2 linked regions of the Homo sapiens genome follow. The protein of the gene in region 1 interacts with the protein of each later gene in a pairwise test. Each region holds a gene or a part of one and is shown on either strand. Other genes may lie near its edges. The genes, in order: SGSM3 and RAB39B.

Region 1 (7,858 bases):
TGGTGTGCGCCTGTAGTCTCTGCTACTCAGGGCTGAGGCGGGAGGATAGCTTGAGCCTAGGAGGTCAAGGCTGCAGTGAGCCATATTCATTCCCTTGCCCTCTGGCTTGGGTGACAAAATGAGATCCTGTCTTAAAAAAAATACAAAGATGAATAGATAATCCTCATCTTCAGAGAGCTCAAAACTTAGTGGTGAATACTTGTAAATAGGTCATTATGATACCAAGCAGTACGTGCAAGGACTGAGGGCTAAAAGACTAAAACTGGAGGTAGGAGACCAATAAGGAGGCTACTGCAACGGGCCAAGCAGTAGATGATGAGAGCTTGAGTGAAGGCAGTGGTGAGAGACACAGACCGGGGAGGGAGAGGAGGTTAAGCTCTTGGTGGCTACTTGAAGAGGGCTGGGAAGCAGGAGGAAAGAAGCTGTGGTGATTTTTAGGTTGGATGGAAATGGTGAAACCACCTGAGAGAACACAGGCTGGGCCAGTTTGCGGGAAAGGTTGGTGAGCATGTGGGCATGGTGGTTGAATCATCTGTGTCTAGGCAGAAATTCCTGATAGGCAGTTGAGGAAAACAAGCTCAGTGTTGGAGTAAAAGCTTCATCAAATTAGGTTTCAGTGGTATCCCCTGACATTGGAAAAGGTATTATCTGCTAATATCTTAACATTTTCTTTTGTCTTGTATTTGCTTTCCTCTGGCAGGTGCAGAGATTCTTAGAAGAGGAGGTGTATCCCCTGTTAAAACCATATGAAAGCGTGATGAAGGTGAAAGCAGAATTATGTCTGTAGAGTTGGAAGAGAATTAAACGAAAATCATTGTTAATTGCTGAGGCATGAAAATTGTGTTACTATAATGCCTTATTTTACCTCGAGAATTGTTACCTTAAATTAGTACAGCACTTTCTTCTTCCCATGGTGCTTTCCTGTTTCTCAGTCTCACATTTCTCAACAAGGCAAAAACAAAGAGCGTTGAAGTTGACTCTGCTCTTGCATAGTAAATGTAGTTCATACTTGATCTCTGTTCTTTCAAGGCATATTTTCCAGCTGCCTCAAGTTTAGTCCTTTTCACGTGTTCATTTGCTTGTAAAGTAGCAAGAAATTTCTGGTCCTGTCTTCTAAAAGTGAATTTGATCTAGGTCTAGCAAAATAACCTGGACTCAGTGATTGAGTCAATGGTCAGATACCTTTTATTTCGGTTATTTTTGGCTAGTATAAGTGATGAAGTTTGGAACTACAGTAAATACTTAAAAAAAAAAAAAAAAAGAACCAAACCCTGATGTGACCATCAGGCTGATTGAGCTGAAGTTGTGCCCAAGCTCATTTCATCTTTTGATAAGGCTTATACAGCAGGGAAATGCTAATTGAGTATATTGATTTCATCAGGGCCGCTGACAGTCTTTATTCCTTGTTGCATGGATTTTGTTGTTGAGGCTTGCTCTGTCACCCAGACTAGAGTGCAGTAGCACAATCTTGGCTCACTGCAACCTCCGCCTCTCAGGTTCAAGCGATTCTCCAGCCTCAGCCTCCCAAGTAGCTGGGATTACAGGCGCCTGCCGCCATGCCTGGCTAATTTTTGTATTTTTAGACGGGATGGAGTTTTGCCATGTTGGGCGGGCTGGTCTTGAACTCCTGACCTCAAGTGATCCGCCCATCTCAGCCTCCCAAAGTTCTGGGATTATAGACATGAGCCACCACACCCAGCCTAATCTTGTTTTCTTTTTTTACTTGTTTACAGTGTAAGCAAGTGCCATTGGACAAGAACGTTGTCTGTGTCATTCCTTGTTGTATTTCCAATAGCAAGAGCACATCAGATACTTGGCAACTAGGCAGTCTTCCAGCTTCTGCCACTGCGCCCGACTTCCTTGTTGCATGGATTTATAGCTGATTGAAGCAACTGTAGCCAAAGATTGAGTTAATTACCTACCTGCCAGGAGAGCACTAGTGTTATTTAGCCCATTCTCATCCTACATATTTTTCGGCATAGATGAAAATGAAAGCTTTTGTTTATCAGATTTGCAGATGACACAAAACTGGGAGAATTAACAAGTATGTTTATTTGGTAAAATAAGTTTTCATCTCTAACCTAAATCGGCTGAAATGATGTGTCCTAAACTAGAGGAAAAAGTTAATAAAGATCAATGTAAATAAGTTAATCTTAAACTCAGTATGCACCAGAACTGAGAGAAGACTGTTTTAGGAGGTGTTAATGGTTGTCCAGTGCCCAAAAAGCCACCAGAGGCTTACTGCTCCGCACTCTTGGCATTACATTCAATTTTGGATACCCAGTCTGAGGAATAGAGATGAACTGGAGAGCCAACCTCCAAAAAGATCTTGTGGTGGAGGAATGTTAGGGCTCTTTATCCTATACAGAAGAAAACTCCTCGGCACTTCAAATATTGCCAGGTGCAGGAAGAGTGACTTGATTGTGTGTTGCCCCAAGAGACACACTGAGCTCAATACCCATTACTGAGACTGGCTTGGGGCCAGACATTGGAACCACTGAGATTAGCAACCTACACTCAATCCCCCAGGTCAGGCAGAAGCTGGAAGACTGCCTCGTTAGGAATGTTGTGAGGGAGAGGAGGCTGAATCGGTTCCAGTTTTATTTAAAAGTAGCCAGGAAATCAGGTTGCGATGATGCGCATTTACAGTCCCAGCTACTTGGGAAGCTGAGGCGATAGGGTCACTTGAGCCCAAGAGTTTAGTCCAGGCTGGGTGACAGCGAGCCCTTGTCACTTAAAGCCAACCTAAGAGAAGAGCTTATCCTTTTGGAAAAACAATAGAAGACAATTCTGAAAACCAAATTCTGAACATAGGCTAGTATAGCAAGCAAGCAGGGATAGCATAGAGCCATTTGCTCAACTTCCAGAAAGAGTTACTCTGTTCATCTCTAAAAAATCTTGAAAAGGGCCGGGTGCGGTGGTGGCTCACGCCTGTAATCCCAACACTTTGGGAGGCCGAGGCAGGTGGATCACCTGAGGTCAGGAGTTCGAGACCAGCTTGACCGACAAGGTGAAACTCCGTCTCTACTAAAAATACAATCAACCGGGCGTGGTGGCAGGCGCCTATAGTCCCAGCTACTTGGGAGGCTGAGACAGGAGAATTGCTTGAACCTGGGAGGCAGAAGTTGCAGTGAGCCAAGATCATGCCACTGTACTCCAGCCTGGGCAACGGAGCGAGACTCCATCTGAAAAAACAAAACAGAAAAAATCTTGAAAGGATACTAAGTCTGACACAAGGAAATTAAGTCATGGGACTCTGACCAGATATTCTGTCTACTTCCTTCTCTGCTATGGGCAACTTGGAGGCAGCAACTACTATCAGTTTATCTGTAATGTGAGAATTTATATTACATAACAGATACTGGGGATATAGGATACCATGGATTTTAGTTAATACATTTCCTCATAGAAAATAAGGAAATAACAGTCTTGTTCCTGTCCTAACAATTCTGTTAGACTAATGATCTCCAGTGATTGGCGATTTGACCTGGTTTCTTCCTGGACTATTTGAATGGGTGGATTTGTTGGTGCATCTCTTGTCTTCTTTCCTTTTCCATTCTCCTTTATTTTTGTATTTACATACTTGTATGCAACTTTGTAATCTGATTTTCCCATGTAACATTTTAATTTGATGGGTGGTCTGCGTGTTCACTGGAAAACATATATATATTAAATGTACATTTATGTATATATATAAAATATACATTCATATATATTATATATAATATACATTCATATATATTATATATAATATACATTCATATATCTATCTTTTATATATATATATAGACAAGATCTTGCTCTGTCGCCCAAGCTGGAGTGCAGTGGCATGACCACAGTTCACTGCAGCCTTGATTTCCTGGGCTCAAGCGATCCTCTCACCTCAGCCTCTTGAGTAGCTGGGACTATGGCACACACAACCACACGTGGTTCATTTTTTGTTGTTTTTTGTAGAGACAGGGTCTCACTCTGTTAACCCAGGCTGTTGTATTTTCTTTAAGATTGGTTTAAATTCACACGGACTCCAGCATCAGAACTACCCAGATGTCAGGTTCTGGGCAGAACTTGGGGCAACTGATGAAATGTCTGCTCAGCTGAAGTCAGACACCTGGACACTTAATGCCCTCTTTCCCTGGCTGATGCTCAGTTTCATTTAAGAACCAGGAGAGCCTGATGTTTGTAAACACAGCTTTAGTGGAAGCACGAGGGTTAGGAGTCCCTAGAAAGGTGATATGAAGCCTAGGTGGATGTGAGGGTTGGTGAGATGGGAATTGCACAGCATAGAATCTGACACAGAAGGTACTCAGAAAATTTCGTTTTCCGGCCTGGCGCGGTGGCTCACGCCTGTAATCCCAGCACTTTGGGAGGCTGAAGCGGGCAGATCATCTGAGGTCAGGAGTTCGAGACCAGCCTGGCCAACATGGTGAAACCCCGTCTCTACTAAAAATACTGTACTAAAAATACAAAAAAATTAGCTGGGCGTGGTGGCGGGCGCCTGTAATCCCAGCTACTCGGGAGGCTGAGGCAGAGAACTGATTGAACCTGGGAGGTGGAGGTTGCAGTGAGCCGAGATCACGCCACTGCACTTCAGCCTGGGTGACAGAGCGAGACTCCATCTCAAAAAAAAAAAAAAAAAAAAATTAGCAAGTTATTTGCAGCGTCTATCTCCCACCACCCTGACTGCTGGTCCACACCATACTGTCCCAAGCTTCTCAGGCTGCGGTGCAGACGAAGAAATCATCGCTATGCATGCTGGCCTTGGGATGGGGGCGCAAAGCCCCTGGACGCGCCCCGCCTAGTGGGCGGGAACGACTACAGCCCCCAGCATGACCCGCGGCCGCCCATGCCACGCCCCGCCACGCGTGCGCTTAGGCGCCGCTGAGCGCTGACTGGGTGCGAGTGGGGAAGCTGCTAACCCGACCCGGATTGGCGCTGAGGTGGCCCGTGGGGCAGGTGAGTGCGGGGCGGGAGTCAGCGGAGACCCACCGGCGCCTACAAGTTCCCCTCAGGCGGGGGCTGCGGGGCGGCTGTGGTCGGACTGTCCGACCGAGGGTCGTATGGGCCGAAGGCGCCCACGAGAGAAGCACCGCCTCGGGCCGGAGAGCCGCCGGGCCGACCTTGCTCGCGTCGCCGTTGGAATGGGGGCCGGGGACGCGGCGGGGCGGGGAGGTCGGCTGCGTCCTCCGGTGCGGCCGCCCCTAGACGGCCGAGGCCACCTCAGGTGTTCGGGGCGCCAGCCGGAATCCACCGCGCTGGCAGCCGGGAGCGGTTTTACGAAAACCGCGCCTGAGGCGGGGGGCTTTCTAAAAAGAGCCTGGCTGGCTCTGGCACCGGGACAGCTGCAGACTCCTCCTCAGGTTTAACTTGCGGTTTTCCCTTTAAGATTCAGATCCAGGTGCAGAACCCGGGCTCGGATCCAGGCCCGAGACTCGGAACACCGGTGTGTTTGCATTTTAGCACGGGGGAAACTGAGGCATACGTTAGCCAGAATCATCCGGTGTGGTTAGGACTGGAATTTTGAAAATTATTCTCATACTTAGTTTACTGACCTAGGCTCTTTTTTATTTGGAAAGAAAAATAAAGATGTTTCAAAGGTTGTTTTCAGTGACTGGGTGACTAGTGTATCTTCCAGTCTCACGCTGCACGTTTGTGGTGGGTTGATGGCTCTTTTTTGTTTTGCGGTGGGATAGAGATGTCCTGGAATGTTCTACACCTTTCTTATTCTTTCTTAGTAAATTCAAGTCAAATCAGACTCTGATTCACAAAAACTCATTTTCAACTTCGACTCGTTTACTCGTAGTTTTTGTGACAGGTTTGTGATTAGGTTTATAGGTACATATGTTTCCCGCTTTTCTTGCTCTTTTAGTTCCAATTATCTCTGCACTCTAAACAGTTGAATTACATCTTTGTTTTTACACTATTTCTGTTCTTGGTGATTAATTTGTAATTCTTCTTTTCTTTTCTTTTCTATTTTTTTTTTAAGACGGGAGTTTCGCTCTTGCCCGGGCTGGAGTGCAATGACATGATCTCGGCTCACTGCAAGCTCCGCCTCCCGGATTCAAGTGATTCTCCTGCCTCAGCCTACCGAGTAGCTGGGATTACAGGCGCCCGCCACCACGCCCGGCTAATTTGTGTATTTTTAATAGAGACGGGGTTTTTCGCCATGTTGGCCAGGCTGGTCTCGAACTCCTGACCACAGGTGATCCGCCCGTCTCGGGCCTCCCAAAGTGCTGGGATTACAGGCGTGAGCCACTGCGCCAGGCCCGATTAATTTGTAATTCTATAGATATCTTTCCTGGCTTTTGATAATCCTAAGTGAATGTAGCTTTTTCATCCCTAATTATCATAGTAGCCTGAGCTTTAGTTCTTCTCCCTGTCCCCCCCCCCTTTTTTTTTTTTTTTTTTTTTTGAGACGGAGTCTCGCTCTGTTGCCCAGGCTGGAGTGCAGTGGCGCGATCTCGGCTCACTGCAAGCTCTGCCTCCCGGGTTCACGCCATTCTCCTGCCTCAGCCTCCCGAGTAGCTGGGACTATAGGTGCCCGCCACCACACCCGGATAATTTTTTGTATTTTTAGTAGAGACGGGGTTTCACCGTGTTAGCCAGATGGTCTCGATCTCCTGACCTCGTGATCTGCCCGCCTCGGCCTCCCAAAGTGCTGGGATTACAGGCGTGAGCCACCGTGCCTGGCCCTCCCTGTCCCTTTTTAAGCGTGGAGGTGTGTGGTCTGGGAGGGGAGAGGGTGAGGTGTCTATTGATCAGATATGGGTAATAGGTTAACATAACCCATGACCAGAACATTAAAAGGCTGTAAACAAACAATTGCTTCAATATAAAAACGCATACCTCGTGAATTTGGAAACATGTCAGGTTGATAGAAAAGTGAACTCGGGTAGAACCTCACAGAAATGAACCCGACATTAGGGTGAAATATTGAGAAGGGAAGGGAGGAGATAATCATCTCTTTTATTTTACAGCCATCTTTCTATGCCTGGAGTGGATGTAGGAACAGCCTGCTGGCTCAGAAGCTTAAAAAAAGCTCTGTGTGTTTTCAGTTTTTCTCTTCTTAGTTCTCAATGAAGGTTTTGGCAGGAGCCCAAAATCTTGTACATTTGATAATTTAACATCAGTTTCATCTGCTTACTCTCCAGATAGCCTGTTATTCAGCTGGTGACGTCAGTAATTTTCCACAGCAGCCATTCATGAGCTCATGCAGACTGTCACAAGGAAATGGGAATAGCACAATGAGTGTTACAGAAGAAAAAAAGATCCTGTTTCTTTGCCATCACATATTATACACAGACTTAGGGAATCTAGACTGGAGCACAAGATATGTGGGAGGGGTTAGAACACCACTCCTACCTGTAGTAATAATCATTGAAACCACTTATTGGATGCCTTCTGCTTACCAGACACTAGTTGTCACAGGTCACTGTAAGTGACAGGGCCAGAATTTAAGTCTACCTGACTCTAAACTCTGCTCTTTTGTCTGTGCTGTACTACCTTATCAACAACTGTGTTCAAGTCTTTCTCATTCTTAAAAATATATGAAACTTTCCTGTGATCATATTTCCCTTCAAATTACTACCATTTCTCCTGCTTTTCCTTTCTAGACTTGTCCTTAAGAAGCAGACTCTACATTCTTCTCTTCCATTTACTCCTTCATTCATTGCAGTCTGACTTCTACCCTCAACTCTGTTGAAACTACTCTCATGAATTCCTCTCAACGATTTATTGAATATCTACTGTGTATATCATCTTCTAGACTTATAAAGACGGCTAAGACATGGATCTTGCCCTCAGGTAGTTTAGAGATTAATGAGAGAGGGTAGTTTATACATGTCAATGTATGTTTCCCACT
Region 2 (4,288 bases), on another chromosome or scaffold:
GACTTCCTGTTCTCTCAAATCTTGCGGATTCATTTTAGTTTTTATCTTTCTGAATCGACTGCTGCATTTTGATACTACTGTTCACACCATCCTATAAAACTGTACTCTCCAGGATTTCATTGTCTCCTTGTAAGTTTCCTTTCCCTTTTCTGTGTGCCCTACACTTTATTGTTACCCAGGGAAGACTAAAGAGTAAGACTCTAGGTTGAGCTGTCAGCAATGACTTTTGGAGCCACGTCTCTTAAATCTATAAGAGAATTAATATAAATGTGATAAAGCTGTACAGAACTTAGGCTACCTATCTACTTATGCCCAGACTCAGAATCCATTATCTTTCCTTTTTTTTTTAACCCTCCCCCCACCCTCATGTGTACTATCAATCCTGGGAAATGTGCTGAACTATTGTGTTCTTATGTTGGTGCCACACTGTAAGTGATCCTGGCATAAAAAGCATGCCGTAGTAGGATTTGAAAAAGCTGAGGCAACTTAGCCTGGAAAAAAGAAGACTTTCCAGGGAACATAATAGTTGTAATCAACTACTTGGCAACAGAATTAAGACTCTTGATTAAAAATCATCATGATGAAGATTTAGGCTTGACAGAACCAACTTTTCTCAAAGTGGCATATGCTCACCAGGAAGTATTGAGGTCCCAGGGACTTTTGATATGATGGTCAGATAACTTTCAAAAATTATATTCTCTTTCTGGCTTTAAGGTAATGGTGAATACGATTGTGTATGGTATATGTCACATCTTATTGATATCCTTGGTAGTAGTTGCTACGCTGTAGTAACAGATTCTGGAAATAGCTATAACACACACTTGGAATCTCACAGTCACATAATCAATCATTTTACTAAATACAAGCATATTTTCATTCACATACAGCTAAATAAAGCATTTTTCACATTTCATTACAGTGCACAACAAAGTGAGGAAAAGTATACAGTACATTTTATTCTGAAATATGAGACAATCTAATCCAACATGCAGTTGTGGTCTTTGTTACAAGTTAGTTTATCTTTTCTTTACCTATGTAGTAAAATAGCTTCTAAAGCTTTATCCTTAGTATTATATTAACACCTGATTCTTTTCACACTTATTTTCTAAAACCCACTTATTGCAGTGACAATGGTACTGAATTCTACTAAAATGATTTTTAAATTTTCTAGAACTTATTTAAGCAATTAAGCTCAGCCACCTCTGCTGGATTTATGCTGAATATTTTTAAACCTGCCAGAAAATGCCAGGAGTGGGAATACTGTACATATAATAAATTTTAGTGAAGAAAATTGTAGGGAAGTTTTGTTTCTTTCCTTTTTTGAACTGACAGAATCCAGTCGACTCTCATTTACCCACTGGATAATCTTGCTTTCAGAATCTTCTAAACATAATTCAGTATAGCAGTTGATGAAATTTTGTGTTAATGAAATTTGCCATGTTTTGTTTGTCTTTTACAACCACGAAGGTGGCAATTTAATTACCCCACCTAAGCCAGCTCTTGTGAAATGAATATAGAGAAGATGATCAGTTCACTTGTAGTTAATGCTGTGAACTGATCCAAAGTGGTTTGCTCATCCAACTTGGGGCACAGGTGGCAGAATAGTCTTCCATAATTTTCATGATTTGGTTTCTTTATTCTGGCTAAAGCAAATTCCCAAAGTTTCAGATTCGGTCACATTCATACTGAAGTTCAATATTATATCTCAAAGCGATTTGCCATTCTTAGGCCTTCCTATCACAATGGATATGAGAAACCTGACTCTAGTCAGAATAGTTTTTTTTTTTAATTGTGAAAAGTATGGCTTTTGCCTAGCTGAACTGGCTACAATCCAAAAAGTAATTTAAAGCATCACCTCTCTTCAAGAAAATAATGGAAACTTCAAGCCAGCCATTCCAATTTGCTGATGCAGTTAGCTGTTTGTTCACCTGAGAATTAAGGGCTGACTCTCTTGGGTAGACAGGAACTCAGTGTACGTATATGGCAGACAGGTGGCCAAGGTCATTTTGGGGTGGGTATTTTATCCCTATCCCACTCCGCATTGCTGTACGTGGTTCCTTTCAATAAAAATCCACTGTGTCTCAGTGATAAGAACACTTATAGCCCACACAGTTCTAATGTCTTTTTAGTTGTGCAATTATTCACTTGTTTAAAGCCCTCTTGTCAATAATGCCTGAATGGGCTTTACCTTTGATTCCTTCCCATGTTCCCTCAGGATTATAGCTGAGTTGTAATCAATAAGGAAAACATATCCTAACATGTAGAGAACATTTATTTATAGTCATATCTCTTCCCAAGTAAACAAATTCATAATCATTTATTCATCTGACAGCAGTATGATGCAGTGAAAAGAGCTAGGAGTCACGAGTCCTTGACCCTGGCCAAGTGATTTTCATGGCTCTTAGTTTACTATTCTGTAAAATGGGGCAAAAACCTCGTAGGCCTGTTATGATGATCAAATAAGTAGCCCAAGTAACTGTAAGCTGTTTGTAAGGGTTACAGTGCCTCCTGTTCAGCAGGAGAGAGTGTTTGCCTCAGGGCTCTTTTCAGAGGCAGTCACTGTGTTGTCACTGTCACGTGCCTGAAGAAGCAAGCAGACTGTTTACTTCCAGATTGCAGGTGCCAAGGCATTGAAACCCCAGGCATGGTCAAAGGAAAAAGGGGGTATGGCATTTGGGTTATAGTGTCTCTTTCCTAGTTATAGGGTAATTTGCATGGGACAATTTGTTTCATACAGCTGGTAATTCTATCACAAGGGTGTTCATTTTCTGAAATGTGCTAATAACTGTGTCGATTGCCTTCCTTTCCATAGTCACATCATTTTTACTTGAACACCAGACCTTTTGGTCTGTGTTCCTCATTTTACAGAAAGCTGTTAAAAGCTAATTGGTACCTTTTAACCAAACCCAGCAAACACCTTTGGTGCAGGGTATTCTCACGGAATAAGTAGAGCTCATAATCTTTGTTTAGTTATGCTAATTGTCCCCATTGTGAAACTTTTTTCCCCTTTATGTATTTCTTTATGTTCATGGCCTATAAGTGAGCTCAAATACCAAGGAACAGTTGTCCTGTCTGTAGGTATGTTTTCCTGGGACTTAGCTTCCTAAACCCCAGGCCTTTAACATGTGGTCCACAAAGGGCTCATGGAGCAGCCACTGCCTAGCATGGGCCACAAAACAGTGCCTGGCCTGGCCCATGTCAGCAATTCAGTCCCTTGGTCACAGCACTCAGGCACCCCCATCCACCCGCACACGAGTCTGTCAGAGTCCCCCTGAGAGGGAGGCTCACTTGGTATCCAAATGGAGGTTGAGTTCTCATCAGTTACACAAAGATTCTATTTATTTCTCTTACTTTTCAGTTCAAGTAGGAGAGCATGTTTTGGAAATAAAAGAACTGACTAGCACAAACATCTCCTCTCTGATTTGACAACCTCTTCTGAAGAGTGAACCACATTTGGTACAAATCCACTCTTCACCCCTTCCCAGCCCTCCTGGATTGTAATCTCCCCCCTTTTAACCAGCTCATATATGTCTCTTGTCAGGTCTGTGAAGGCTTTCTCCACATTAATGGCATCTCGGGCTGACGTTTCAATGTACTTCATGCCGTATGCAGCAGCCAGTTTCTCGGCCTCGTGGCGAGTCACTTGCCTCTGTGTATCCAGGTCACACTTGTGACCCACCAGAACAAATACAATTTGGTAGGGCTGAACGTGTACTTTGGTCTCTTCTAACCACTCATGGACATTCTGGAAGGACCTGCGGTTGGTAATGTCAAATAAGAGAAGACCACCTACTGAGTTCCTGTAGTAGGCGCGAGTGATGGATCTAAAACACAAGAAAGAAGTAAAGAGTAAAGGCTGTGCCCAAACTTCTGCATGTCAATGAACTCAGTATATTCAAGTGTTCCTGGTTAGTGACACAGTCCTTTAATAAAAATGATTTTCTTTTTTTTTAAAAAAACAAAGGAATACAAATGGCATTCCATACTACTACTAATATGTGAGTTTCCAATTGGGCCAAACTTTGAGATGGGCATCTTCTAGAAACGAATGTTCATGAACTTTTAGGCATTTTCCATGGATTCAGCACTGGAGAGTGACCCTGGGACATAACTGAGTTCTATTTCTTGCCTTCAGGTAAAACTACAACTAACTCTCCCACCCCCCAAATCTGAATAACTGACAGAGACTTCCTTTTCTGCAAAATAGGATACCCAAGTCACAGTGTTACCATGAGGCAAAATGAAACAATGGATATTAAAGTGTTCTGTGACGTGGAGAGTTCATTAC

Evidence for each region.
Region 2: the proteins of SGSM3 (region 1) and RAB39B interact in a two-hybrid assay, tested with the Homo sapiens proteins (one study listed by BioGRID).

The regions. Positions count from the first base shown.
Region 1 is NC_000022.11:40,365,736-40,373,593, forward strand, and holds the start of SGSM3 (small G protein signaling modulator 3), read left to right. Parts: upstream 1-4,858; 5' UTR 4,859-4,953; intron 4,954-7,858. Other genes in the region: ADSL (adenylosuccinate lyase), read left to right, coding at 701-763, 1,734-1,883. UniProt on the Homo sapiens protein: May play a cooperative role in NF2-mediated growth suppression of cells.
Region 2 is NC_000023.11:155,257,406-155,261,693, forward strand, and holds the end of RAB39B (ras-related protein Rab-39B), read right to left. Parts: intron 3,825-4,288; coding exon 3,398-3,824; 3' UTR 830-3,397; downstream 1-829. UniProt on the Homo sapiens protein: The small GTPases Rab are key regulators of intracellular membrane trafficking, from the formation of transport vesicles to their fusion with membranes.